Linked DNA regions of Homo sapiens: all the other regions are linked to region 1. The links come from fine-mapping of genetic effects on gene expression. A gene starts in region 1. Each other region holds a variant in brackets. All regions are shown on one strand. Distances are from middle to middle.

The links. PIP is the estimated chance that this variant, and not a neighbour inherited with it, causes the effect.
Region 2: its variant is fine-mapped to the expression of PCSK1N in whole blood (TOPMed, PIP above 0.99). The same link has a PIP of 0.9 or more in lung.
Region 3: its variant is fine-mapped to the expression of PCSK1N in whole blood (TOPMed, PIP above 0.99).
Region 4: its variant is fine-mapped to the expression of PCSK1N in esophagus mucosa (GTEx, PIP above 0.99). The same link has a PIP of 0.9 or more in lung.
Region 5: its variant is fine-mapped to the expression of PCSK1N in whole blood (TOPMed, PIP above 0.99).

Annotation. Positions count from the first base shown.
Region 1 is chrX:48,833,106-48,838,207 of GRCh38, forward strand. It overlaps PCSK1N (proprotein convertase subtilisin/kexin type 1 inhibitor), which reads right to left and starts at 2,505. Exons shown (of 3, transcript NM_013271.5): 1 at 2,314-2,505. The coding sequence starts at 2,427.
Region 2 is chrX:49,264,382-49,269,483 of GRCh38, forward strand. It overlaps FOXP3 (forkhead box P3), which reads right to left and starts at 329. Exons shown (of 12, transcript NM_014009.4): 1 at 280-329. It overlaps FLICR (FOXP3 regulating long intergenic non-coding RNA), which reads right to left and starts at 2,094. Exons shown (of 2, transcript NR_147988.1): 1 at 2,067-2,094; 2 at 1,840-1,917. RefSeq lists enhancers at 4,501-5,000, 4,698-4,747. The variant G/A (reference allele first, on the strand shown) is at 2,878.
Region 3 is chrX:49,088,451-49,093,552 of GRCh38, forward strand. It overlaps a transcript of WDR45 not described here. Among named protein-coding and RNA genes, the nearest start is that of WDR45, 11 kb to the left of the region's middle. The variant G/A (reference allele first, on the strand shown) is at 2,899.
Region 4 is chrX:48,522,829-48,527,921 of GRCh38, forward strand. EBP (EBP cholestenol delta-isomerase) reads left to right here. Exons shown (of 5, transcript NM_006579.3): 2 at 871-1,244; 3 at 4,161-4,197; 4 at 4,327-4,457. The coding sequence starts at 944. Among named protein-coding and RNA genes, the nearest start is that of EBP, 3.6 kb to the left of the region's middle. The variant T/C (reference allele first, on the strand shown) is at 2,363.
Region 5 is chrX:48,769,698-48,774,799 of GRCh38, forward strand. It overlaps GLOD5 (glyoxalase domain containing 5), which reads left to right. Exons shown (of 4, transcript NM_001080489.3): 3 at 1,230-1,385; 4 at 3,613-3,951. The coding sequence ends at 3,738. Among named protein-coding and RNA genes, the nearest start is that of GLOD5, 11 kb to the left of the region's middle. The variant G/A (reference allele first, on the strand shown) is at 2,644.

The sequences.
Region 1 (5,102 bases):
AGTGGTTCATGCCTGTAATCCCAGCACTTTGGGAGGCCAAGGCAGGAAGATCGCTTGAGGCCAGGAGTTTGAGACCAGCCTGGTCAAAATGGCGAGACCCTGTCTCTACAAAAAATAAAACCAAAAAAAATGAGCGGGGCACAAGCCCATAGTCCCAGCTACTTGGGAAGATGAGGTGGGAGGATCACCTGAGTCCAGAAGCTCAAGGTTGCAGTGAGCCCAGATCGCACCACTGCACTCCAGCGTGCATGACAGAGGAAGACCCTGTCTCTAACAAACATAAAATAAAATTAAAAACCTCATTAGTAATCAGGGGAAAGCAAATTAAAATGCCAGGGAGATACTATGCATAATATAACCAAAAGATTGACCCAAATCAAAAAGTCTGATAATATGAAGTGTTGATATGAATGCAGAAAAATGGGAACTCTCATACTATGCTGGTGAGAATTAAACTGGCAAAGTAATTTTGCAGAGCGGTTTGACAATATCTAAAAAGATGCACATATCCTATGACCCACTCCTGGGATGTCACTCCCCAGAGCAGCTTTGGCACATACGCTACTGGTCACAAGTTCGTGAAAGATGACAGCAGCACTGTTCGTAATAGCATAAAAGGGCGGGGGAGAAAGAAAAGCCTGGAAACAGTCCAATGTCCACTGACAAATTGAGAATACATATATAAATCATGATGTCCTCATAGGATGTAATATTATGCAGCAATAAAAATAAATGAATTACAGCCACATGCATCAACTTGGATGAATCTCGTGACCAGAATAGAGCCAAGGGAAAAAAAAACGTCAAGTTCCAGAATTTCACTGCAGACTGCCTGAGACTACTAGACACCCTGAGGACTTCCTAGTGACCCCTAGTGACTACGAGGAACCAGTCACCCAGTATGATTCCGTTTCAATGATGTTCAAAAGCAGGAAAAACTAAACAATGGATTTTTTTTGAGAGCTACACATATGTGATAAGCTACAAACAAAAGTAAGGGATCAATGGACAGAAAATACAGAATAAGGACTGTGTGGGGACAGGGGCTGCCATGGCGAGGGGCACGCAGGGGCTTCTAACTCTTGGTCAGGCTCTATTTATTAAGCTGAGTGACTGCTACACGAGAGAGTTATTTTGTCATCATTCTTTACATTGTACATATATATTAAACACATTGTTACACGGATATAAGGTAACAGTTTTTTTTAATTCCCATCTTTGATGCAGACAGTATTGAAGAGCTAGAGGAGGATGCCTCTCCAAGTGCCCTTGCTGGCGCCCACCACTCCTCAGTCACCCCGGGGTATCACACTCACCAGCAATCACAGCCTCACACACACTCATGAGGACTGACAGGCCTGGAGATGTCACATATACAGCCCAACACTGCCACAGCCACATGCAAGGACCTGCACACGTTCACATCCGCAGCTGCTCCTGCAGTTACAATCGCCAAGCCACCCAGGTGCAAGGACATGCACCATCCTTAAAGACACAATGCAGCAGAGAGACATCATGGCTCCTCTCCTCAGGATGACACAGCTCCACAAAGAAACGGAGAGAAACAGTCTCAGGAACACGCAAACGAAATCCCAGGCACTTGGTCCAACAGAACCACTATGGAATGTGCACACGGAGATGCGAAGACCATTCCCTCTCAAACACAAACGAAATCACACACACACACACACACACACACACACACACACACACACAGAGAGAGAGAGACAGAGAGAGAGAGAGAGAGACACGCCCATAGGCCAAGCCAACACACATAATAAGGATTCACAAATATCCACACGGTGTCACTGAGAAAACAATCGGACGCACAAAAGAATCGCGCACAGAAGTATCCCGGTATCACACACACTACACACCCAGACGCACCACGGCACCTTTCTAGGACACTTGGAAGCGCTCAAACCAAAGAACACACACTTTCAAGGACACGACACCTCCACACCGCTCTCCTCACATCACACGCACACACACTGATGCGCGCGCGCCCTTTCTTAAAGCGCCTTAGTGCCGTGGACAGCGTCACAGGCACCGGGCACGGAGAGGTGGGCAGGGCACGGTTACCGGCGGCGCCCCGGACAACGCCACCCGCACAGGCAGAGACCAAGTCAGGTCTCAGGTGTGCCGGCGTGGCCTGGGCGCGGACCGGCGGCCGGAGCCCGGGCCACCCTCGTCGATCTCTCCGCACGTCCCGGGAGCCGGCTCGGGCGGGGGTGAGGCGGCGCAGCCCCAACCCCAACCCTCGCCGGTGGCATCCTCCCCCAACCCCCACCCCTCGCCGGACTGGGGTCGCACCTTTACCGGCCGCGCGCAGAGCGCGGGGGGCGGCCGAAACAGGCCGAGCAGCAGCAGCACCAAAAGGCCGACGCCCCCGGCCCGCGGCCCCCAGAGCAGCGGCGACCCCGCCATGCTGCCCCAGCGAGCCGGGCTCCGGACGGGCGGACTGGCTGGCAAGTGCGCAGTGCCGGGGCGAGCTGGCGAGGCTGCGGCGCTCTGCGGCTGCGCACGCCCGGAACCAGGCCCCCCCCCCCCCGCCCCCACCCCACCCACCCGACCGACGCAGGCGCAGCCTGGGGAGCTGGCAGCCCCACCAGACCTCCCGTCGCCATGGAGATGCCCAAAGGGCAAGGTGGAGAGCTGGCGGTTGCCATGGCAGTCGGAGGGCAGTTGCTGGGGCAACCGACCTTACTGTTACCTTAGTAGACAGGAAAACAGGCAAGAAAAATTGACTCAGTGGAGTGGAATGGGGGTCTGGTCCTCATCTCTCTTCCTGGGGGAGGAGATGGACTTTAGTTTGTTCATTAGATAAATAGTTAATGGATCACCCGCAGTGGGCCCGGCCCGCGCCAGGGAGATGGGTTCAATCTAGGTGATGTGACCATGGACAGCTCAGTTGGCCATTCTAAGGCTCAGGCTCTCAGCGGCGTAAAGGGGTTACTACTGACAGCCTCCCTCAAAGTGACCTTGGAGGTTTAGAATGACATTCAGTAGGAGCTCCATAAATGCTCCTTTCCATCCTCTCCTTGTCTCTTTGTGTTTTTTTTTTTCTGACAGTGTCTCGCTGTGTCCTCCAGGCTGGAGGACAGTGGCCGGATCTCAGCTCACTGCAATCTCCACCTCCAGGGTTCAACCAATTCTCATGCCTCAGCCTGCCAAGTAGCTGGGACTACAGGTGCCCACCACCACGCCTGGCTAATTTTTGTATTTTTGTAGAGATGGGGTTTCGTCATGTTGCCAGGTTGGTCTCCAACTTCTGAGCTCAAGCAATCGGCCCTCCTCGGCCTCCCAAAGTGCTGGGATTACAGGCGTTGAGCCACCATGCCTGGCCCCAGCCCAATACTTTCATCTCTCCATGGCTCTCTGTGTTTATCTTTCTGCCCTTATGTGCCCACAGCTCTCTCTGTGTCTTCCTCTCCCCATATGTCTCTCCTTGTCTATGACTTTCTCTCCTTTCATCTCTCCAACCGCTGTCTTGTCTCTGTCTTTATTTTACTGTCTATATCTACTTGTTTTCCATAGATAGATATATACATAGATACATATATGCATAGACTTTACCCATATATTGTTCCAGAAATAAGTTCAAGCCACTAAAATGACATATCAAAGGAAACAAGATCTTGAAAAAATGTATGTGTATCCATAGGGGGAAAAATGTTGGGGAGGAAATGTCATCAATGGTTATCTCTGGGGAGGTAACTAATGGTTTGTTACTTTCTCCTTTATACTTTTCTGTTGTCTGAAAAAAAAAAATTACAATAGGCCAGGCGCGGTGGCTCATGCTCGTAATCCCAGCACTTTGGGAGGCCGAAGTGGGTGTATCACCTGAGGTCAGGAGTTTGAGACCAGCCTGGCCAACATGGTGAAACCCCATCTCTACTGAAAATACAAAAATTAGCCAGGCATGGTGACACGCGCCTGTAATCTCAGCTACTCAGGAGGCTGAGGAGGAGGAGAACTGCTTGAACCTGAGAGGCAGAGGTTGCAGTGAGCTGAGATGGTGCCACTGCATTCCAGCCTGGGCGACAGAGCAAGACTCCGTCTCAAAAACAAAAAAAGATCATCTGAATAAATGAAGACACAATACATGTTCCTGGATGAGGCAATTTCATTTTATAAAGATGTCAAGTCTATCCAAACTAATATATAATTTCTATGTAATTTCAATTTAAACCCCAGCTGAATATTTTAAAGAAAATCAATTAAATGTACTTTTTATTTTGTTTTATTTTTAATCCTACTCCTTCTGTAATAAAATGTGTAATAAAATTTGTTTTGGTTTGTTTATTTGTGTTTTGAGACAGGGTCTCACTCTGTCACCCAGGCTGGAATGCAGTGGTGAAATCACGGCTCACTGCAACCTCCACTTCCCAGGCTCAAGCAATCCTCCCACCTCAGCCTTCCGACTTGCTGGGACTACAGGTGTTCCCCACCATGCCCAGCTAATTTTTGCATTTTTCTGTAGAGATGGGTTTCACCATGTTGCCCAGGCTGCTCTTGAACTCCTGGGTTCAAGTGATCCACCCACCTTGGCCTCCCAAAGTGCTGGGATTACAGGCATGAGCCACCACACCTGGCCATATTTTTAAATGTATATAAGAGTCCATGCAAAAATTTGTACACAAATGTTCAAAGCAGCATTATTTATAATAGCAAAAAGTGGAAACAACCCAAATGTTCATCAATAGATGAACAGATAAGTAAAATGAGGTTTCTCCATATCATTGAATATTATTCAGCCATAAAAAGGAATGAAGTGAGGCCGGGTGTGGTGCTGTAATCCCAGCACTTTGGGAGGCCGAGGCAGGCGGATTACTTGAGGCCAGAAGTTCGAGACCAGCCTAGCCAACATGGCGAAACTCCATCTCTACTAAAAATATAAAAATTAGCAGGGCGTGGTGGTGCATGCCTGTAATCTCAGCTACTCAGGAGAATCGCTGGAACCTGGGAGGTATGGGTTGCAGTGAGCAGAGATCGCACCACTGCACTCCTGAGCAACAGGGAGAGACTCCGTCTCAAAAAAAAAAAATCTCATGTATCCCATAAATATACACACCATGTACTTATAAAAATTAAAGATTAAG
Region 2 (5,102 bases), 430 kb after region 1:
CATAAAGACTGGCAGCTGACATATTTTAAAAATCCTATCCATCTACGTATCAATTGATGAATTCATTTATTTTTGCCCCTGCCCATGCATTAAGTACTTCACCTTTAAGTCTTCTGCCATTTATTCTATTATTTTTTTAAAGACCTTACCTGGCTGGAATCACGGTAGCTGGGTACATCCCACTGTACCAGAGGGCCCCTGACCCCCCCGCCGTGCCTACCTCCCTGCCATCTCCTCCAATGGGGCCCACATCTGGTAGGGGAGAGCAGGGACACTCACCTTGGTGAAGTGGACTGACAGAAAAGGATCAGCCTGGCTTGTGGGAAACTGTCACGTATCAAAAACAACTTTGCTTTTATACCGAGAAGAAAAACCACGCTGTACGGTGTGGAAGCCGCAGACCTCTCTCTTCTAATAATCCAAATTTTTTTCGATGAGTGTGTGCGCTGATAATCACGGGGTGGGGAGGGGTTCTCATAGTTTTTTTTTTCTCTCTCTCTGTGTTTCTCCTTTTCTTGATTATGAGACTTAAACGGAAATTTTGAAATTTTGGGTTTTTTTCTTTGCCCTTTACGAGTCATCTGAAAATATGATTTCTTCCCCTCACCACAGAGGTGAGAGGTATCAATGAGATAATAGGGCTCATGAGAAACCACAGTTTTTAAAACAAAAGTGTATAGAGTTTGAAAAAAAAAAAACAAGGGAAAAGAACTAAAATAAATCACAGGGCCAACCCGAGGCAGGCAGAGACACCATTCTGTGAGTGAGAGGATATTTGAGGGTCTCTGGGGAAAGAAAGAGAATCTGAAGCTCTATGTGTGGATGGGAAATGCCAGGGAAAGAGACAGAATAGGGCTGGGTTCCCAGAGGCCTCGCCCTACTCCAGGCCTCAGTTTCCCTATAGATGGAATTGATATGGTCCCCATTGCTTGAACTACCCGGCGAGGGGAGTTCTGCACCCCCTGCAACACCCCTCCCACAGAGGGTGAGGGGCATGTAAGTTACTTCATGGAGGAGAAAGCGGAGAGCCCACTGTCATCCCCTAAAATTCATGGACTTGAAGAGTCGGAGAATCCCTGGCTCCCAGAATCTACTGACAGTTACTGAATGAGGAAAGAGAGAAAAGTCTCGCCTCATCACGTTTTAGGGCTTGAGTGCCCTGACCCAGCCACTGTCCCACTGGGAAGGTCCCTAGCAGGTCCCCAATATTAATGCATCCATCCTCACGATGAACCCCAGAGGCCCATTGGGACCCTGACCCTCTTGTTTCAGGAACATCATGGCCTGATGCTTCTGAGGCCCTCAGCCTTTGGGGTCTTTTACTTCAAAAAGCCCCAGTTTCCAAGGATTTAGGATTCCAAATATCCGCCATCATCTCAGTAGCTGATGTTTATCTTGAATTTTCCATGGGTCAGATACAGTGCTGAACATGTCTCACAAGTGATCATGTTCAATCCTCACCATGGCCCCTTGAGCTCCATCTCATCATTATTGTATTCCTGTTATACAGATGAGGGAAACGGAGGTATAAGTAGTCAAGCAACTTGCCCAAGATCACAGAGCTGGCGAGTGTGGGTCCCGCTTTCTTTGGTGCTGGGCTTTGAAATCCCCAAGCTTTCCTGAACTTGATGTTCTCAGGTTTTAAATTCTAGGATGTGATGGCAGGGAGATCCTGGGATTTGGAGAGTCCTTGGAGACTTGAAGCTTGTGAGGCTTTTAGGTTGTCCAGGAATTGGCGGCTGCATCTCTTGACCTCAGCAGGCACTCTATTCAACCACTGGTCAGCATGGTAGACCAGCCCCCAGGGGCTTCTCCTGACAGGCCATGGTGAAGACTTCCAGCTCCCAGCACCCTGCAAAGCCCAGGGTTCTAGTCGTCCAACAACCACTCCAGCCCTCTACAAGACTGGCTTCAGACCTGGGGAAGAGAAATTGGAAAGGGCTTTTTATTTACATGGTACAAATCTGGTGGCCAAGATCCACCCCTTCACCCCTTTGCCCCCTTTCCTCCCCCAACCTTCTAAGCCCTCGTAAAAAGGAGGGCCTCTTTCCTCAACTCAGACTCACCCTTCTGGAAAAGCCCAGAATGGGCCTGATGGCCTGGCTTTGTGAAGACAAGAAAAAAAAAAAAAAAGAATAGAAAAAAAAAGACCTTAAAAAAATCAGCCAACAACAATTAAAAAAAAAAAAAAACACCCAACCCTCCCCACCATTAGTTCAAAACAAAACTTTCGCTGGTTGAGGCTTCTGAGTTGGTGGGACACATCTGAGACCCAAAAATGGCTTGGGTGTGTTGGACAGCCAGGGGAGGCACCAAGGTGGGATGAGGTCCCCTGCTTGGAGGCCTGCAGGGACCCTGTGAACAGCAGGTGTTTAACAGATGTCACGGCATGTGGGAGGGAGCAAGGGAGGGGGTGAGGAGCATGCATGTCAGGAAGGAGTCCTGGGGAGCTGATTCTAGTGATGGCCCCAAGGTTAATGACCCCTTGCAGTGATGGTCCTAAGGTTAATGATCCCTTGCACTGATGTTCCCATAGTTAATAACCCCTTGCTCCCTGCAGACTTGGGTCGGAATGTTCCCTACACCTCCTGCGTAATTATAAACCAGGCCAGTTCTATCAGCAGAGGCATTGTTCCCTGCCCCAGCACCTGTCCCCCTCCTGGAAAAGGGGGCTAGTTTTCTCTCTCAGGATCAGAGGTGTGGGCTGCATTCTCCTTATACCTTCCCCAGACCATCTGTCCCTTACTGTCACTCACTCCATGAAAGAGAGTGGCCAGAGATATAGGAGGCAAACGAAGTGAGGATGGTGGCCGAGAATGTGAGCTGGCCCCTTGGGCAGGCCCAGGGTGTGAGAGGGAAATGCTACGGCTGCTGAAA[G/A]CCAAGATCCTTGCAGAATGGGGGCTGGGGTCAGGAGGGCAGAGAGGGGTAGAGGTCGCTACCTCCCCTCTATACTGGACTATATCCTCTCTCATGGAGGGCTTCTCGGGAAGGAGACTGGGAGGGCTGGGAGTTGGGGGTGAGTAGGCAAGATTAAACGGGTCAGGAAAAGTCCCCAGAGACAGGGGCCTCTGACAAAGACTTGAAGGAGATGAGGGAGGGAGCCAGCTAGATATCTGAGGAACTCCAAAGGAAACAGCCAGGGCAAAGGTCCTGAGGTGGGAATGTACCTGATTTGTTCAAGGTCTACAAGGGGGCTGGTGTGGTTAGTGTGGAGAGAGCAAGAAGAGAAGCTGGAGGTGAGGTCAGAAAGGGGACTCGGAGGTTAGACCACGCAGGACCTTGTAGGCCATGGTAAGGACTTTGGCTTCAACGCTGAGTGAGGAGGAAGGCATGACAGGGTTGCAAGCAGAGGAGAAACACAAACCGTGTTAGGATTTAACAGGAAGCCCCTGAATGCTGAGTGTACAATGGGGTCTAGGGCCTGAATGTGGAAGCAGGGGACCAGCAAGGAGCTGGCTACTGCAGTAGTCTAGGTGACTGGTGATAGTGCTGGCAGTGGAGGTGGTGAGAAGAGGATGGATTTGGTAAATATTTTTAATAGACAGCCAAAAGGATTTGTTGAAGACTGAGAGTCTTGGAGCCAGATCGGGACAGACAATGCCCAAACCAGGTGGGCAGGAAGGAGTCCCTGGACTATTTGCCAGCTTGAACTTTTAGGTGAGAAAAAAATAAAGTTCTGTCTTGCTTAAGCCCCCATTATTTTATGATTTTTCTGTTACTTGCAGCTGAACATATTCATTTCTAACTCATGGACATCCTGAACATGGAGACCTGGGGAGAGGGGCTGCTGGAAGGATCACCTCCCTCCTAGGATGCTGTGAGGTTCTAATGAGATAACAGCATGCTCAGAACCTGGCACTCAGTAGGTGTTCAGTAAATCTTCCCAGGATGGAGAAGGAATGTATGAATGGATGTGTTCAGCGGACAAAAGCTGCAGTTGAGTTCCCACAGAAGGTGAGACCCCAAAGGGAGAGCGAAAGGAGTTTACTAGATGGAAGCAGCAGAAGGAACAGCACTCTTGGGAGAGGGAACAGTAGAAGCAGAGATGGGGGGACAGAAAGAAGGGAGGTGAGGCCCCTGTGGGGTGTGGAGTGTCAGGTTGGGCAAGAAGGACAGGGCTTTGATTGTGATTCCATTAGTCAGAAGCTACCCATATGCCCAATCAACTTCTGGTAGCACACAGTCAGGTCAGTGTTTGCTGAGCTGAAATTTAAAAAAGTGAATCCTTCAGAAAGTTAAATTTCCTATTCGGCCATTCATTCAACAATAGTATCAAGTCCTGGAGAGTGCTTGCGGCTAACAATCAGGGGCATTCTTGGCTTGTGGCACTGCTCAAGAAAAGGTTGTAGTTGGGCAGGGAGGACCCAGTAAGTAACTAACTGCAACAGGACAGTCATTTTCACTTTCCTAGTTCACACACCAAGGTGTGGTCTAGGCCTTCAGGGGCTCTGGGTATTCCTGGGGCAATGGGGAGTCACGGAGGGTTAGGGAGAGGGTAACCCCATCCCTGAGAAGCACATTTTTCCTAATGGCTGCCTGCGTTCTATGGTTCTGCTGTCCGGCCACCCAATACCTCAGACTCTGTCTACACAGCGTCCTCCTCTCCAGCCTCCTTATTGGCTACTCATGCCTCCCTTCACACCACCTACACTGCCCCCGTCGGCTCTGCTTTTTTCCCCATCTTGCCTCCAAGTCCTCCCTCCGTCCCGCTGCACTATCTAGCCTCGGCATTGGCTCATCCCATACTAGTACTGTCCTTTGAGGTCTCTACGCCTTCACCCTGGCTCCCTCATTGGCTATCCGCCAGCTCTCGTCCTCGCTCCCGCCTTCAGCCTCCACCTCCATTGGCTCGGCTCCCTACACACCCGCCTCTTGGTCTCCTTTTAGCCTTCGTATTGGCTAGCTCCACCTTGGCACCACCCCTTCGAAGCCGCAGTGCACGCTCACAAGCCTCCCCATTGGCTCGCTGCAGCCATTGTCGTCATCCCACGCGTGGCTCTCCATTGGCTGTTCTCTCTCTCTAGCTACCGTTCCACCGCCTACGCAACCCGCGGGATCTCCCACTTTTTGGGCCTCTGCGTTCGTTCCCGGCTGCCCTCATC
Region 3 (5,102 bases), 260 kb after region 1:
TATTTGTGGGGGACCTTCAGGCTTTGGGCAAGGAAAAAGTGAAGGCTAAGGCACAGTTGTGAACTACCTGAGGGAGTGTTCTAGGTATTCTCCAACATACATGGACACACATTAGGCAAATGCTGGAAGAAGTAATGGTTCAAGGCATTTAAGGGAACCTTTGCCTAACCGTTATCTGGTCAGTAAGCTAATGAAGCAGGGCCTTCAGTGGCCACACACAACAAAGAATACACACTTTATAGAATTAGTTCAGAAAAGTTGCTAAACAGGCTCATAGTAGCTCATGCCTTTGGGAGGCTGACATGGGAAGATGGCTTGAACCCAGGAGTTTGAGGTGCAGTAAGCTATGATCATGCACTACAATCCAGCCTAGACAACAAGAGGGAGACCTTATCTCAGAAACAAACAAACAAACAAAAAGAAGTCACTAAACAGCAGTGATAATAAAAACAAACAGCAGCCACAACAAACCCTGGGAAGGAGACAATCTGAATTTCAGAGTTGCCACATTATTTAAAATGTCCAGATTAAAAAATGCAAAGAAACTAGAAAGTAGGCCAGACACAGTGGCTCACGCTTGTAATCTCAGCACTTTGGGAGGCCAAGGTGGGTGGATCACCTGAGGTCAGGAGTTCGAGACCAGCCTGGCCAACATGGTGAAACTCTGTCTCTACTAAAAATACAAAAATTAGCTGGGCGTGGTGGCGCACGCCTGTAATCCCAGCTACTCAAGAGGCTGAGGTGGCAGAATCACTTGAACTCAGGAGGCGGAAGCTGCAGTGAGGCAAGATCATGCCACTGCACTCCAGCCTGGGTGACAGAGGGAGGCTCCATCTCAAAAAATAAATAAACTAGAAAGCATAGCCCATACACAGGAAAGAAAAAAAGAAGAAAAAAACCGGTAAATAAAAACTTCCACTGAGGAAGCTCAGATGTTGGAATTACTAGACAAAGTTTTTTTTGAGACAGAGTCTCACTCTGTTACCCAGGCTGGAGTGCAGTGGTGTGATCTCAGCTCACTACAACCTCAGCCTCCTGGGTTCAAGCGATTCTTGTGCCTCTGCCTCCTACGTAGCTGGAATTACAGGCATGTGCCACCACGCCCCACTAATTATTGTATTTTTAGTACACACAGAGTTTCGCCATGTTGGCCAGGCAATATAGTGAGACCCCATCTCTACAAAAAAGTAGCTGGCCATGGTGGTGCATGCCTGTAGTCCCACCTACTCAGGAGGCTATGGCAGGAAGATCGCTTGAGCCTAGGAGGTGGAGGTTGCAATGAGCTGAGATCGGGCCACTGCATTCCAGCCTGGGTGACAGAGCAAAACCTTATCTCAAAAAAAAAAAAAAAAAGAAAAGAAGAGAAAAAAAGAAGTACTGTACTTATACGTGTGGTACAACATGGATGAACCTTGAAAATATTATGCTATATGAAATAAGCCAGACACAATAGGCCACATATTTTTATGATTAATTTATATGAAAAACCAAGATAGGCAACTTCATAGAGACAGAAAATACATTCGTGGTTTTTAGGAGCTAAAGGCTAGGGGATGGGTGGAATAGTGACTGGTAATGGCTATGGGGTTTCCTTTAGAGGTAATGAAATAAAGGAATAAAGGTTTTTTTTTTTGAGACAGGAGTCTGACTCTGTCCAGCCTGGAGTGCAGTGGTGTGAACTTGGCTCACTGCAACCTCTGCCTCCCAGGTTCAAGCGATTCACCTGCCTCAGCCTTCCGAGTAACTGGGATTACAGGCGCCTGCCACCGCGCCCGGCTATATTATGTATTTCTAGTAGAAACGGGATTTCATCATGTTGGCCAGGCTGGTCCGGAACTCCTGACCTCAGGTGATCCACCCGGCTGTGCCTCCCAAAGTGTTGGGAATACAGACATGGCCACCACACCCGGCCCAAAATAAAGCTTCTTGAATTAGATAGTGTTGATGTCTGCACAATCTTGTGAATGTACTAAAAACCACTGAATTGCACACTTTGAAGAGGTTGGTTCTATGATATGTACATCTTACCTTACAACTATAAGAAAAGGAATGACCTATTGAAACATGGAACAAACCTGGTGAATCTCCAATAATTTTTTTTTTTGAGATGGAGTTTTTTGCTCTTGTCACCCAGGCTGGAGCAATGGCACGATCTCAGCTCACTGCAACCTCCGCCTCCTGGGTTCAAGCAATTCTCCTGCCTCAGCCTCCCAAGTGGCTGGGACTACAGGCACCCGCCACCATGCCCAGCTAATTTTTATATTTTTAACATGGGCAGAGTTTCACCACATTGGCTAGGCTGGTGTTGAACTCCTGACCTCAGGTGATTCACCTGCTTCGGCCTCTCAAAGTGCTGGGATTACAGGTGTGAGCCACCGTAATCCAGGCCTTTTTTTTTTTTGAGACGGAGTCTCGCTCTGTCACCCACACTGAAGTGCGGTGGCGCGATCTCGGCTCACTGCAACCTCTGCCTCCCAGGTTCACGCCATTCTCCTGCCGCAGCCTCCCAAGTGGCGCCCGCCACCATGCCCAGCTAACTTTTTTTTGTATTTTTAGTAGAGGCGGGGTTTCACCGTGTTAGCCAGGATAGCCTCAATCTCCTGACCTCGTGATCCGCCCGCCTCGGCCTCCCAAAGTGCTGGGGTTATAGGTGTGAGCCACTGCGCCCGGCTTCCAATAACTTTTATAGAGTGAAAGAACTTAGAGAGAGCTAGTCTTGGTGGCTCATGCTTGTAATTCCAGCACTTTGGGAGGCTGAGGCGGGTGGATCACTTGAGCTCAGGAGTTCAAGACCAGCCTGGCCAACATGGCAAAACCCCATCTCTACCAAAAATACAAAAATTAGCTGGGCGTGATGGTGCACGTCTGTAATCCCAGCTACTTCAGAGGCTGAGGCAA[G/A]AGAATCACTTGAAACCGGGAGGTGGAGGTTGCAGTGAGCCGAGATCGCACCACTGCACTCCAGCCTGGGCGACAGAGCGAGACTCCGTCTCAAAAATAAAGAAAAGAAAGAAGGAATTGGCCGGGCGCGGTGGCTCACGCCTGTAATCCCAGCACTTTGGGAGGCCGAGGCGGGTGGATCATGAGGTCAGGAGATCGAGACCATCCTGGCTAACAAGGTGAAACCCCGTCTCTACTAAAAATACAAAAAATTAGCCGGGCGCGGTGGCGGGCGCCTGTAGTCCCAGCTACTCGGGAGGCTGAGGCAGGAGAATGGCGTGAACCCGGGAAGCGGAGCTTGCAGTGAGCCGAGGTTGCGCCACTGCAGTCCGCAGTCCGACCTGGGCGACAGAGCGAGACTCCGTCTCAAAAAAAAAAAAAAAAAAAAAAAAAAAAAAGAAGGAATTTAGAAGAGTTCATACTAAGATGCACTTATATAAAACTCTTAAAAAGGCAAAATATGCCAGGCGCGGTGGCTCACGCCTGTAATCCCAGCACTTTGGGAGGCTGAGGCGGGTGGATCACGAGGTCAGTAGATCGAGACCATCCTGGCTAACACGGTGAAACCCCGTCTCTACAAAAAATTAGCCAGGCGTGGTGGCACTTGCCTGTAGTCCCAGCTACTCGGGAGGCTGAGGCAGGAGAATCGCTTGAACCCGGGAGGCGGAGGTTGCAGTGAGCGAGACCACGCCATTGCACTCCAGCCTGGGCAACAGAGCAACACTCCATCTCAAAAAAAAAAAAAAAAAAAAAAAGGCAAAATATAACAAAGTATATTTTGTACACTTTGTTATATTTTGTATACTTTGTTATATTTTGTATGCTATAGTAACAAAGCAGATCCGTGGTTGCTTGGGGATGAGGTGGGGCAGTTAGGAAGGGAATTACAAAGGGGCATGAGGAAACTTGGAGATGATGATATGTCCACTATCTTGATTATGGTGATGGTTTCATGAGTGTATGCATATGTTATTTTTTTTCAAAACAAATACCTAACACTTCTGTTTCTTGGACCAATTTTTTTTTTAACTTGCCCTGCCCCCACCACCTGCTTGGACCAAAATATAATACCTATTTATGTCCTAAAAAAATAGTAGCAGTTTAGAAAATCGACAACACATAGATAGAAAAAAAAATTGTTAAATAACTACAATTGCTTATTAATGGATGCATGTTTGTTAGACTCTGCACACCTTCCCAAACCTTAATCAGATTGTCTGATATCACCTAAATCACTTTATCCATGCTGATTTTTGTCAGGTGTTTGCTTTTTATCACAGAAACTGCTGTAAACCCAGCTTTGCAAAAAGATGTCATTGAAAGAAAAGTAGTTCAATGTAACTTTGAAACTTTGAACTCCCTTGAATAGTTTATGAGGTATCTGACATGTTGAGTACCCATATATTTCCCTCAAACAATTTAAAGCATCTTACAGCGTCCCTGAGAATTCACTATGGCACTCTGAGGTGCCTCAACACAGTTTGGGAACTGCAATCCTAACTCACGCAGGTCTGTGTTTCCTCATTCTGTTTCTTTTCACTTAGTATTATGGTTTTTTTGTTTTGTTTTTTAGAGGGAGTCTCTGTCACCCAGGCTGGAGTGCAGTGGCGCCATCTCGGCTCACTGCAACCTCCGCCTCCTGGGTTCAAGCCATTCTCCTGCCTCAGCCTCCCAAGTAGCTGGGATTACAGGTGCCCACCACCATGCCTGGCTAATTTTTGTATTAGAGACGGGGTTTCACCATGTTGGCCAGGATGGTCTCGATCTGACCTCGGCCTCCCAAAGTGCTGGGATTACAGGTGTGAGCCACTGTGCCTGGCCAGTATTATGTTTTTAAGCTGGATACTTTGTTTTCTTTTAATAGAGATGGGGTCTTGAGGTCTCACTATGTTGCCCAGGCTATATTTTTTTTGAGACGGAACTTTGCTCTTGTCACCCAGGCTGGAGTGCAATGGCACGACCTCAGCTCACTGCAACCTCCACCTCCTGGGTTCAAGCAATTCTCTTCCCTGGGATTACAGGCTTGAGCCGCTGAGCCCGGCCAGCCCAGGCTAATCTTGAACCACTGGGCTCAAGTAATCTTCCTGTCTCAGTCTTCCAGAGTGCTAGGATTACAAGCGTGAGCCACCACAATCAGCCTTCTTTTTTTTTTTTTTTTTTAATGA
Region 4 (5,093 bases), 310 kb before region 1:
CACCTGGCTAATTTTTGTATTTTTAGTAGAGACGGGGTTTTGCCATGTTGGCCGGGCTGGTCTTGAACTCCTGAGCTCAAGTGGTCCACTCGTCTTGGCCTCCCAAAGTGCTGGGATTACAGGCGTGAGCCACCGCGCCCGGCCTTCTTTTTTAGAGGCAGAGTCTCAGACTGGAGGGCAGTGATGTGGTCACTGCTCACTTCAGCCTTGAAGTCCTGGGCTCAAAGCGATCCTCCTGCCTCAGCCTACCTACTAGCTGGGACTACAGGCCTTTGTCACCACACCTGACTGATTTTCTTATTTTTTTAGAGACAGTTTCGCTGTGTTGCCCAGGCCGGACTTGAATTCCTGGCCTCAGGTGCTGCTCCTGCATCAGCCTCCCAAAGCACTGGAATTACCTGCCACGGTGCCTGGCCTTTAGTCATGGTCTTAAAACAGAATGTAGGCCGGGCGCAGTGGCTCACGCCTGTAATCCCAGCACTTTGGGAGGCTGAGGCGGGCGGATCGTGAGGTCAGGAGATCAAGACCATCCTGGCTAACACGGTGAAACCCCGTCTCTACTAAAAATACAAAAAATTAGCTGGGCGTGGTGGCAGGCACCTGTAGTCCCAGCTACTCGGGAGGCTGAGGCAGGAGAATCGTTTGAACCCGGAAGGCAGAGGTTGCAGTGAGCCGAGGTCGCACCACTCCACTCCAGCCTGGGTGACAGAGCAAGACTCCGTCTGAAAAAAAAAAAAAAAAACGGAATGTAATTAGAAGTGTTACAATCCTGTCTGTTAACTGGTAAATTCGGTCCATTTACATTTCTCATGATAATAAACTATTTGAATTTGATTTTATTATCTCATTCTGTACTTTCTATTTGTCCAGGTTTTTCTGTTCCTTTTTTTTTTTTTTTTTTAACTTCCTGCCTATACACACGCAGCCATCAGCCCACAAAGACATGACTACCAACGCGGGCCCCTTGCACCCATACTGGCCTCAGCACCTAAGACTGGACAACTTTGTACCTAATGACCGCCCCACCTGGCATATACTGGCTGGCCTCTTCTCTGTCACAGGGGTCTTAGTCGTGACCACATGGCTGTTGTCAGGTCGTGCTGCGGTTGTCCCATTGGGGACTTGGCGGCGACTGTCCCTGTGCTGGTTTGCAGTGTGTGGGTTCATTCACCTGGTGATCGAGGGCTGGTTCGTTCTCTACTACGAAGACCTGCTTGGAGACCAAGCCTTCTTATCTCAACTCTGTGAGTCCTGATTTCTTTCATATGCTGTGGGATGGGATTTGCTGGGCAGGGATCGGCTTGCATGTTTACCTATCCACCTATTCTTCTTCCATTGATTTATTTTAAATTTTTATTTAATCTTTTAAAAAATTTATTATAGGCCGGGCACAGTGGCTCACGCTTGTAATCCCAGCACTTTGGGAGGCCGAGGCAGGTGGATCACTTGAGGTCAGGAATTTGAGACCAGCCTGGTCAACATGGCAAAACCCCATCTCTACTAAAAATACAAAAATTAGCCAGGCGCGGTGGCTCAAGCCTGTAATCCCAGCACTTTGGGAGGCCGAGGCAGGCAGATCACGAGGTCGGGAGTTGAAGACCAGCCAGGCCAAGATGATGAAACCCCATCTCTACTAAAAATACAAAAATTAGCCGGGTGTGGTGGCACACGCCTGTAATCCCAGCTACTAGGGAGGCTGAGGCAGGAGAATTGCTTGAACCTGGGAGGCGGAGGTTGCAGTGAGCCAAGACCATGCCATTGCACTCCAGCCTGGGCAACAGAGTGAGACTTTGTCTCAAAAAAAAAATTATTATGTATTGTTATTATTATTCTTTTTGTTTTTTGCCCTTCTCTAAAACTGGTAGATAACTTATTTTTGAGACAAGGTCTTGCTCTGTTGCCCAGGCTGGAGTGCAGTGGTATGATGATTGCTCACTGCAACCTCCAACTCCTGGGTTCAAGCGATCGTCTTGCCTCAGCCTCCCCAGTAGCTGGGACTATACTATAGGTGCACACCTTTATGCCTGGCTAATATTTTCACTTTTTTGTAGAGACAAGGTCTTGCTATGTTGCTCAGGCTGTTCTTTAACTCCTGGGCTCAAGCAATCCTTCCACCTCAGCCTCCCAAAATTCTGGGATGACAGGTGCGCACCACCGTGCCCAGCCTTATTTAACTTTTTTGTTGCATGTATATTCACGTGGGTCAAAAAACCATTTAAAGAGATTTGCAGTGAAAATCTGCTTTCTATCCACTAAGTTTCCCCAAACGCTGTTAGGCACTGTTGATAGTTGTTTATGTTTCTTTTCAGTTTATTTACACACGTAAGTCTCAATTTGCTCAATTGTAAAAGGAGGATAATAG[T/C]AATAACCAACTATATGTAAGATACTTAGAACAGTGTTTGGCAAACAGTGGTTGCCATGTAACTGTTCACTATTATTATCATTATTTGCACTTTTCCCTTTTTACACAAATGGTAATATGCTATATATACTTCTAATCTTTTCTCTTTTTCTTTCTTTCCTTACAAGAAAACCAAAGAAGCCATTTTCTTTTTTGAGACGGGGTCTCGCTCTGTCACCCAGGCTAGAGTGCAGTGGCATGATTATAGCTCACTGCAACCTTGAACTCCTGGGCAATCAAGCAATCCTCCTGCCTCAGCCTCCCTAGTAGCTGGGATTATAGGCATGTGCCACCCCACCAAGTTATTTTTTTTTTAACAACTTTTTTTTTTAAGAGATGGCGTCTTGCTTTGTTGCCCAGGCTGTTCTCCAACTCCTGGCTTCAAGTGATCTGCCCACCTCAGCCTCCCAAAGTGCTAGGATTACAAGCATGAGCCACCGCACCCAGCTGCTTTTTTTAATGAGGTCACTCCTCATGATTTCATAAAGAGCTTTCAAAGCATGGACATTGTACAGTTGCTTGACTTGTGTAGTATTGATGGGCATTTTCCCTCAATCTTCTGCCATTATAAACAAGGCCGGGCAGAGTGGCTCATGCCTGTAATCCCAGCACTTTGTGAGGCGAAGGCGGGCAGATCACCTGAGGTCAGGAGTTTGAGACCAGTCTGGCCAACATAGTGAAACCCCGTCTCTACTAAAAGTCTAAAAATTAGCTGGGCGTGGTGGCAGGTGCCTGTAATCCCAGCTACTCAGGAGGCTGAGGCAGGAGAATCTCTGGGACCTGGGAGGCGGAGGTTGTGGTGAGCTGAGATTGCGCCACTGCACACTCCAGCCTGAGCGATAAGAGCAAGGCTCCGTCTCAAAAAAAAAAAAAAAAAAAAAAAACATTACAGGCATGAGCCATTGTGCCCGGCTGGTCAGATGTTTCTTAAATTTTAGTCATTCCAGTAGATGTGAGTGATATCTCATTATGGTTTTAATTTGCTTTTCCTTAGTGACTAATGGAAGTTTGAACATCTTTCATATACTTATTGGCCATTTAGAAATCCTCTTTGTGAAGAACCTATTCAAGTCTTCTGCCTATTTTATATTGGATGATCTTTTTCTTTCTTTCTTTTTTTTTTTTTTTTTTGAGACAGGGTCTTACCCTGTTGTCCAGGCTGAGCACTGTGGTGCTATCATAGCTCACTGCAGCCTCAACCTCCTGGGCTCAAGACATCCTCCCACTGCAGCCTGGGACTGTAGGCACGTGCCACCACGTCCAGCTAATTTTTGTATGTTTTATAGAGTTGGGGGTCTCACTATATTGTTCAGACTGGTCTTGAACTCCTTTATGCAAGCCATCATCCCACCTCAGCCTCCCAAAGTGTTGGGATTACAGGCATGAGCCATCGTGCCCGGCGGTCTTTTTCTTTCTGATTCTCTGCTCACTCTTGTATTCACTCATCTGTTCACCTACATTCTCTCTCTCTCATTGGCTACTTCACTCACTCCATCATCTACACCTGCTTCCTTTTATACCACACACACTTCTTGAGTACCAATCACAGCCACACTGTTTTGTGTCAGGCTTTACACATATTACCTTGTTTTAGAGAAATAAACCACTAGAATCCAAACAGTTACCCCATTTCACGGATGAGGAAGCAGACGCATGGGAAGGTTATGAAGTCTGTCTTCTTGCAGGGACCCCCAGCTCTCACAAGTGTGTGTTCCTTTCACTGCCTTTATTCTTCATATCTCTCTCTTCTTTTCTTCAGGGAAAGAGTATGCCAAGGGAGACAGCCGATACATCCTGTAAGTGTTTGCCTCTGTCAATGGAGACTGGCATTGGTTTTCGGGGGGTGGTGAGTTGGGGAGCACTAATGGGCTAACCTGTAGGAAGAGCACACCGATACCAGTGTCCCCTCATGCTTTCTCCTGCAGGGGTGACAACTTCACAGTGTGCATGGAAACCATCACAGCTTGCCTGTGGGGACCACTCAGCCTGTGGGTGGTGATCGCCTTTCTCCGCCAGCATCCCCTCCGCTTCATTCTACAGCTTGTGGTCTCTGTGGGTAAGGAAAGGGCACTAGAGGGGCACTGGGCACTAGAGGGGTTGATGGGGGATCCACAGACACAGATGTATCCCTGTGGGTGGGATCTCTCAACGGTGCCCTTCCAGGGGTAAGTCAGACTGAATGACAAACCCCCTGAGGCTCTGGAAAGGTCATGCCCTTCTCTGAGCCTGCACTCTCAGGTGGGGAGGGTTCATTTTTCTTCCTCCTCCTCCTTCTCCATCACAAAGTCTCCTGTGAAGGTTACATGAGGTGGCCCAGGGTGGCAAGAAGCCCCTGGAACCTCCAGGATCAGGGCTCTGAGATCCCTTCATGTAAGATTCTGTCATATTTTTTTTAAAACAGGGTCTGGCTCTGTCACCCAGGCCAGAGTGCTATGGTGTGATCTCGGCTCACTGCAACCTCCACCTCCCAGACTCAAGCGATCTTCCTGCCTCAGTCTCCTGAGTAGCTGGGACTACAGGCATGTGCCACCGTGCCTGGCTAACTTTTGTATTTTTAGTAGAGATGGGGTTTCGCCATGTTGCCCAGGCTGGTCTCAAGCTCCTGAGCTCAAACAGTCCTCCTGGCTTGGCCTCCCGAAGTACTGGGATTACAGGTGTGAGCCACTGTGCCCGGCCTCAGTCATCTTGTGTT
Region 5 (5,102 bases), 63 kb before region 1:
CAGCCGGGCACACTGGCTCACATCTGTAATCCCAGCACTTTGGGAGGCCGAGGCGGGGAACACTTGAGCCAGGAGTTCAAGACCAGCCTGGGCAACACGGGGAGACCCGGTCTCTACAAAAAATAAAAAAAAATTAGCCAGGCGTGGTGGGGTGTGCCTGTGGTCCCTGCTACTCAGAGGCTGAGGTTGCAGGATCACTTGAGTCTGGGAGGTTGAGGCTGCAGTGAGCCGTGATCACTGCACTGAAGGCTGGGCGACAGAGCAAGACTCTGTCTCAAAAAAAAAAAAAAAAAGACGCCAGGCACAGTGACTCACACCTGTAATCTCAGCACTTTGGGAGGCTGAGGTGGGCAGATCACCTTAGGTCAGGAGTTTGAGACCAGCCTGGCCAACATAGCAAAACCCCATCTCTACTAAAAATATAAAAATTAGCTGGGCATGGTGGCGTGTGCCTGTAGTCCCAGCTACTCCAGAGGCTGAGGCACGAGAATCACCTGAACCAGGGATGTGGAGGTTGCGGTAAGCCAAAATGGTGCCACTGCACTCCAGCCTGGGCAACAGAGCAAGACTCTGTCTCAAATAATAATAAATAAATAAATAAATAAACAAACAAACAGTGGTGCATCAGTTAGGGACTTTGGAGGCATGTAGGAGAAAACTCAACTAACTGTGGGTTAAACAAGACAAGAGTTTTCTTTTCGTTTCACTGAACAACCAGTCCAGAGGTAGTTAGTCAGGTCATGGGCAGTGGCTGGGAAGCAAGAGGAAGTGAATGAGCAATAAGGGCCAGCGCAGTAGGGTTGGGAGGTTCCCAGAAGCCCCATCCACACCTCTGCCCCCATCTCATTGCCTGGTCCAGCTAACGTGGCCTCCGGACGTGCTGGGAAATGTAGGTTTTTAAAGTTGGGTACACGGTTGACCCCACTGAAATTTCTGTTGTGTTTATAAGAAATAAAGGGGAAATGTATACTGGGTAGGCAAATTGCTATCTCTGCCTTGAGTGGTATAAACACTATTTGGAGATATGGAAATAATTTCAAGGAGAAATAAACTCGTACACTTGCCTCTAGGGAATGAGCCTTGGGTGGGGCAAAGGGCTGTTGTGTAGTAGCCCCATTCTAGTTTTTATTTTTTTTAAACCTTGTTGGGATAGGTGGAAAGGCTTCATCTCACACTCATCTTGGAGGTTTAATTCTAGGCTGTTTTCTCTGCCCCTCCCCACCAAGTAGGAAGACCGGAAAGCACTGTGTTTTGGAGACCAGAAATTTAACCTCCACGAGGTGGGAAAGGAATTTGAACCCAAAGCCGCTCACCCAGTTCCTGGCTCCCTGGACATATGTCTGATCACAGAGGTGCCTTTGGAGGAAATGATCCAGCACCTCAAGGTGAGTGGGACTTCTCTTCTTTTTGCAAAAGCTGCTGCAAACGCAGTGAAAACAGAAGAATGACCCAGAGAGGTAACAAGTTTTACCACAACCAGATAATGTCTGCACACAGTTATGTACTATTTTGACTGACAATTCTTTCATGTAAATAAATGTGTTTAAAAAGGAAACTGTGCGTTCCCATTGTAAAACAAACAAACAAACAAACAAACCTACATTTATGCACTGAAATACTTTTTTTTTTTTTTTTTGAGACAGAGTCTTGCTCTGTTACCCAGGCTGTAGTATAGTGGCTTGATCTCGGCTCACTGCAACCTCCACCTCCTGGGTTCAAGCGATTCTCCTGCCTCAGCCTCCCAAGTTGCTGGTACTACAGGTGCGTGCCACCACACCTGGCTAATTTTTGTAGTTTTAGTAGAGACAGGGTTTCACCACGTTGGCCAGGCTGGTCTCAAACTCCTGACCTCAAGTGCTCCGCCCACCTCGGCCTCCCAAAGTGCTGGCCATTACAGGCATGAGCCACGTGCCCAGCCCTAAATACATTTATATAAAAAGAAAACGTTCATCCAAGTACATGAAAAACCCATTATATCTTGGCATAAAGGAAAAGTAACTGTAAAAACCAACAGCTATGAAAGCATAACAATGTCATTAGATTCTAGCCACTTCCGTTCCCTGTACTCCCTGGCCCTGACATTACAAAGGGAGATATGGCAGGTGGTTAAAGAGATACTAAGAACTTGTTAGCATCCACCTTCTATGTGTAAAAAGAAGGACTGAAAGAAGATTGGAGAGGGAATAATTTCTGATTTGTTGTTATTTAATCCAGTGTCTCTGTAATACTTAAAATGATGTCATCTAGAAGAGGCATTGGTTGGGCACGGTCACTCACGCCTGTAATCCCAGCACTTTGGGAGGCTGAGGTGGCAGGATCATTTGGGCCAGGAGTTCCAGACCAGCCTGGGCAACATAGTGAGATCCCATCTCTTAAAAAAAATAAACAGAGTAGCCAGGCATGGTAGTGCATGCCCGTAATCCTAGCTATTCAAGAGGGTGAAGTGGGAGGATCACTTGAGCCCAGGAGGTGGAGGCTACAGTGAGCTATGATCACGCCACTGCACTCCAGCCTGGGTGATACAGCAAGACCCTGTCTCTAAAAAATTAAAATAAGGCTGGGGCACAGTGGCTCATGCCTGTAATCCCAGTGCTTTAGGAGGCCAAGGAGGGAGGATCACTTGAACCCAGGAATTTGAGACCA[G/A]CCTGGGTAACATGGCGAGACCCTGTGTCTACATAAAATACAAAAAAAAATTAGCCAGACGTGGCGGTGTGTGCCTGTAGTCTCAGCTACTTGGGAGGCTAAGAGGTGGGAGGATCGTTTGAGCCCAGGTTGAGGCTGTAGTGAGCTGTGATCGCACCACTCCATTCTAGTCAGTGTGACAGAGCAAGGCCCCATCTCTACAATAAATAAATAAAAGGGGTTTTAGTTTCCCTTTTGCAGAACACGGATTGAGGTCTTATATATATTCTGTGCAAATAACCTAGACTCCTTCTTTGGGAAGTGTCAGTGAAAAAGACTGGTTTGGAAGTAAAATGGGTGAAGCATAGGGGTTAAGAGTATGGTCGTTGACCCAGACTGCCTAGGTTCGAATTCTGGTTCTGCCATTTACTAGATAATACTAGGTACTATTATCCTTCCCATTTTACAGATGAGGAGATCGAGGTACAGGGTAGTTAGGTACTGTGCCCAAGGCCATCTAGCTGATAAGTGGCTGGAACGGAGTGATGGAGGGGAGGATGGTAGGAGATGAGGTCAGAAAGATACAGCGGTGTTCTAAGGTCTTCTAGGCCACTATAAGGAATTAAATTTTACAGGCCAGGCGCAGTGGTTCATGCCTATAATTCCAGCACTTTAGGAGGCTGAGGCGGGCGGATCACTTGAGGTCAGGAGTTCGAGACCAGCCTGGGCAGCACAGCAAGACCTCGTCTCTATGAAAAATAGCTGGGCATGGTGGCATGCGCCTGTAATCCCAGCTACTCAGGAGGCTGAGGTGGGAGAATTGCTTGAGCCTAGGAGGCAGCGGAGGTTGCAGTGAGCTGAGATCTCACCACTGCACTCCAGCCTGGGTGACGGAGCGAGACTCTGTCACAAAAAAAAAAAAAAGGCATTAAATTTTGGTCTCACACACACATTTTGACGAACGACTTTTGTCTTTTCTTCCCACTTCAGGCTTGTGATGTCCCTATTGAGGAGGGGCCAGTCCCCAGAACAGGGGCAAAAGGGCCTATCATGTCCATCTACTTCCGAGACCCCGACAGAAATCTGATTGAGGTGTCCAACTACATCTCCTCGTGATGGAGGCTGGACCTCCTCCATTCTGTCCCCCTTGATGTCGCCCTCTCCTTTCCTTCCTGCAAACCCCCACCCAGGCCCAGAGATCTCCAAAGACTGAGGACTTAGGCACTTCACACATCCTGCTGAGGGGGGACCCAAGACAGGTTTGGGACCAAACCTACATGTCTGTATGTCATCAAAGTTGGCCTAATAAATGCATAACCTCTCAATGAATACGGGGTCTTCGTTACTGTATTGGCGCCATGCATGGGTGTTTATGTAGGGTGTGAGATCTCTGAGCTGTTCGGTCGGAGGCCTATGACCAGGGTATGACGCCTCTGAGCACCGAATCTAGGGTCATCACCTCGGGATTCAAGGCCCCTGACAGATTTCTCCTTGTCAGTGATGCCATTGTCTTCATCCTTTCCTAACTTTTCTCACTCCTCCAGCTGCTGCCTGCTGTTTTCTCCATTCCTGGGCCTCGCAGAATCCCAGGATCTCTTATTCCCATCAGACCTTCCAGGACCAGCACCAGGTGATACTACCTCTTTCAGGAGAGCCTTCTCTAGTCTCACTCTCAGGGTATTTAGCACTTTCTACCTTTGGATCTAGTAGATCAAAGAATTCGAGACCAGCCTGGGCAACATAGTGAGACCACCCACCTCCACAAAATAAATAAAGAAATAAGCCAAATCATCTCAATTGAAGCATAGCTTGTGGCAGGTTAGGTGGGACAAGGTCAGATTTCCTGTTTCTGCCCCCCCTCCACCATTCAGTCAACTAAAATACATATGTTAACCACCTGTGTGCCAGGCCCTGTTCCAGGCACTGGAGAGACAGCATTGAGCAAAGGAGATAAGCATACCCCTGTTGGTGGAGTTGCCATTCTAGTGGGAGAGAAAGAAAATAAATAAAACTAAGTAGGTAAAATATTAAGTATGTTACAGGTTGGTAAATGGTTTGGAGAAAAAGAAAACACGGAAAAGAGGGAATGCAGATAAAAACTGTTGGGGCAGGTTGGACACAGTGGCTCACGCCTGTAATCCCAGCACTTTGGGAGGCCGAGGTAGGTGGATCACTGAGGTCAGGAGTTTGAGACCAGCCTGGCCAACATGGCAAAACCCCGTGTCTACTAAAAATACAAAAATTAGCTGGCTGTGGTGGCGCATGCCTGTAGTCCCAGCTACTTGGGAGGCTGAGGCACCAGAATTGCTTGAACCTGGAGGCAGAGGTTGCAGTGAGCTGAGATTGCACCACTGCACTCCTTCCTGGGTGACAGAGCGAGACTCTGACTTGAAAAAAAAAATTGCTAGGACAGCTTCTGATGTCTAATGAGGCGGTCCCGGAAAGTGTGACTGAGAAGTGTCTTGAGCACAGATCTGAAG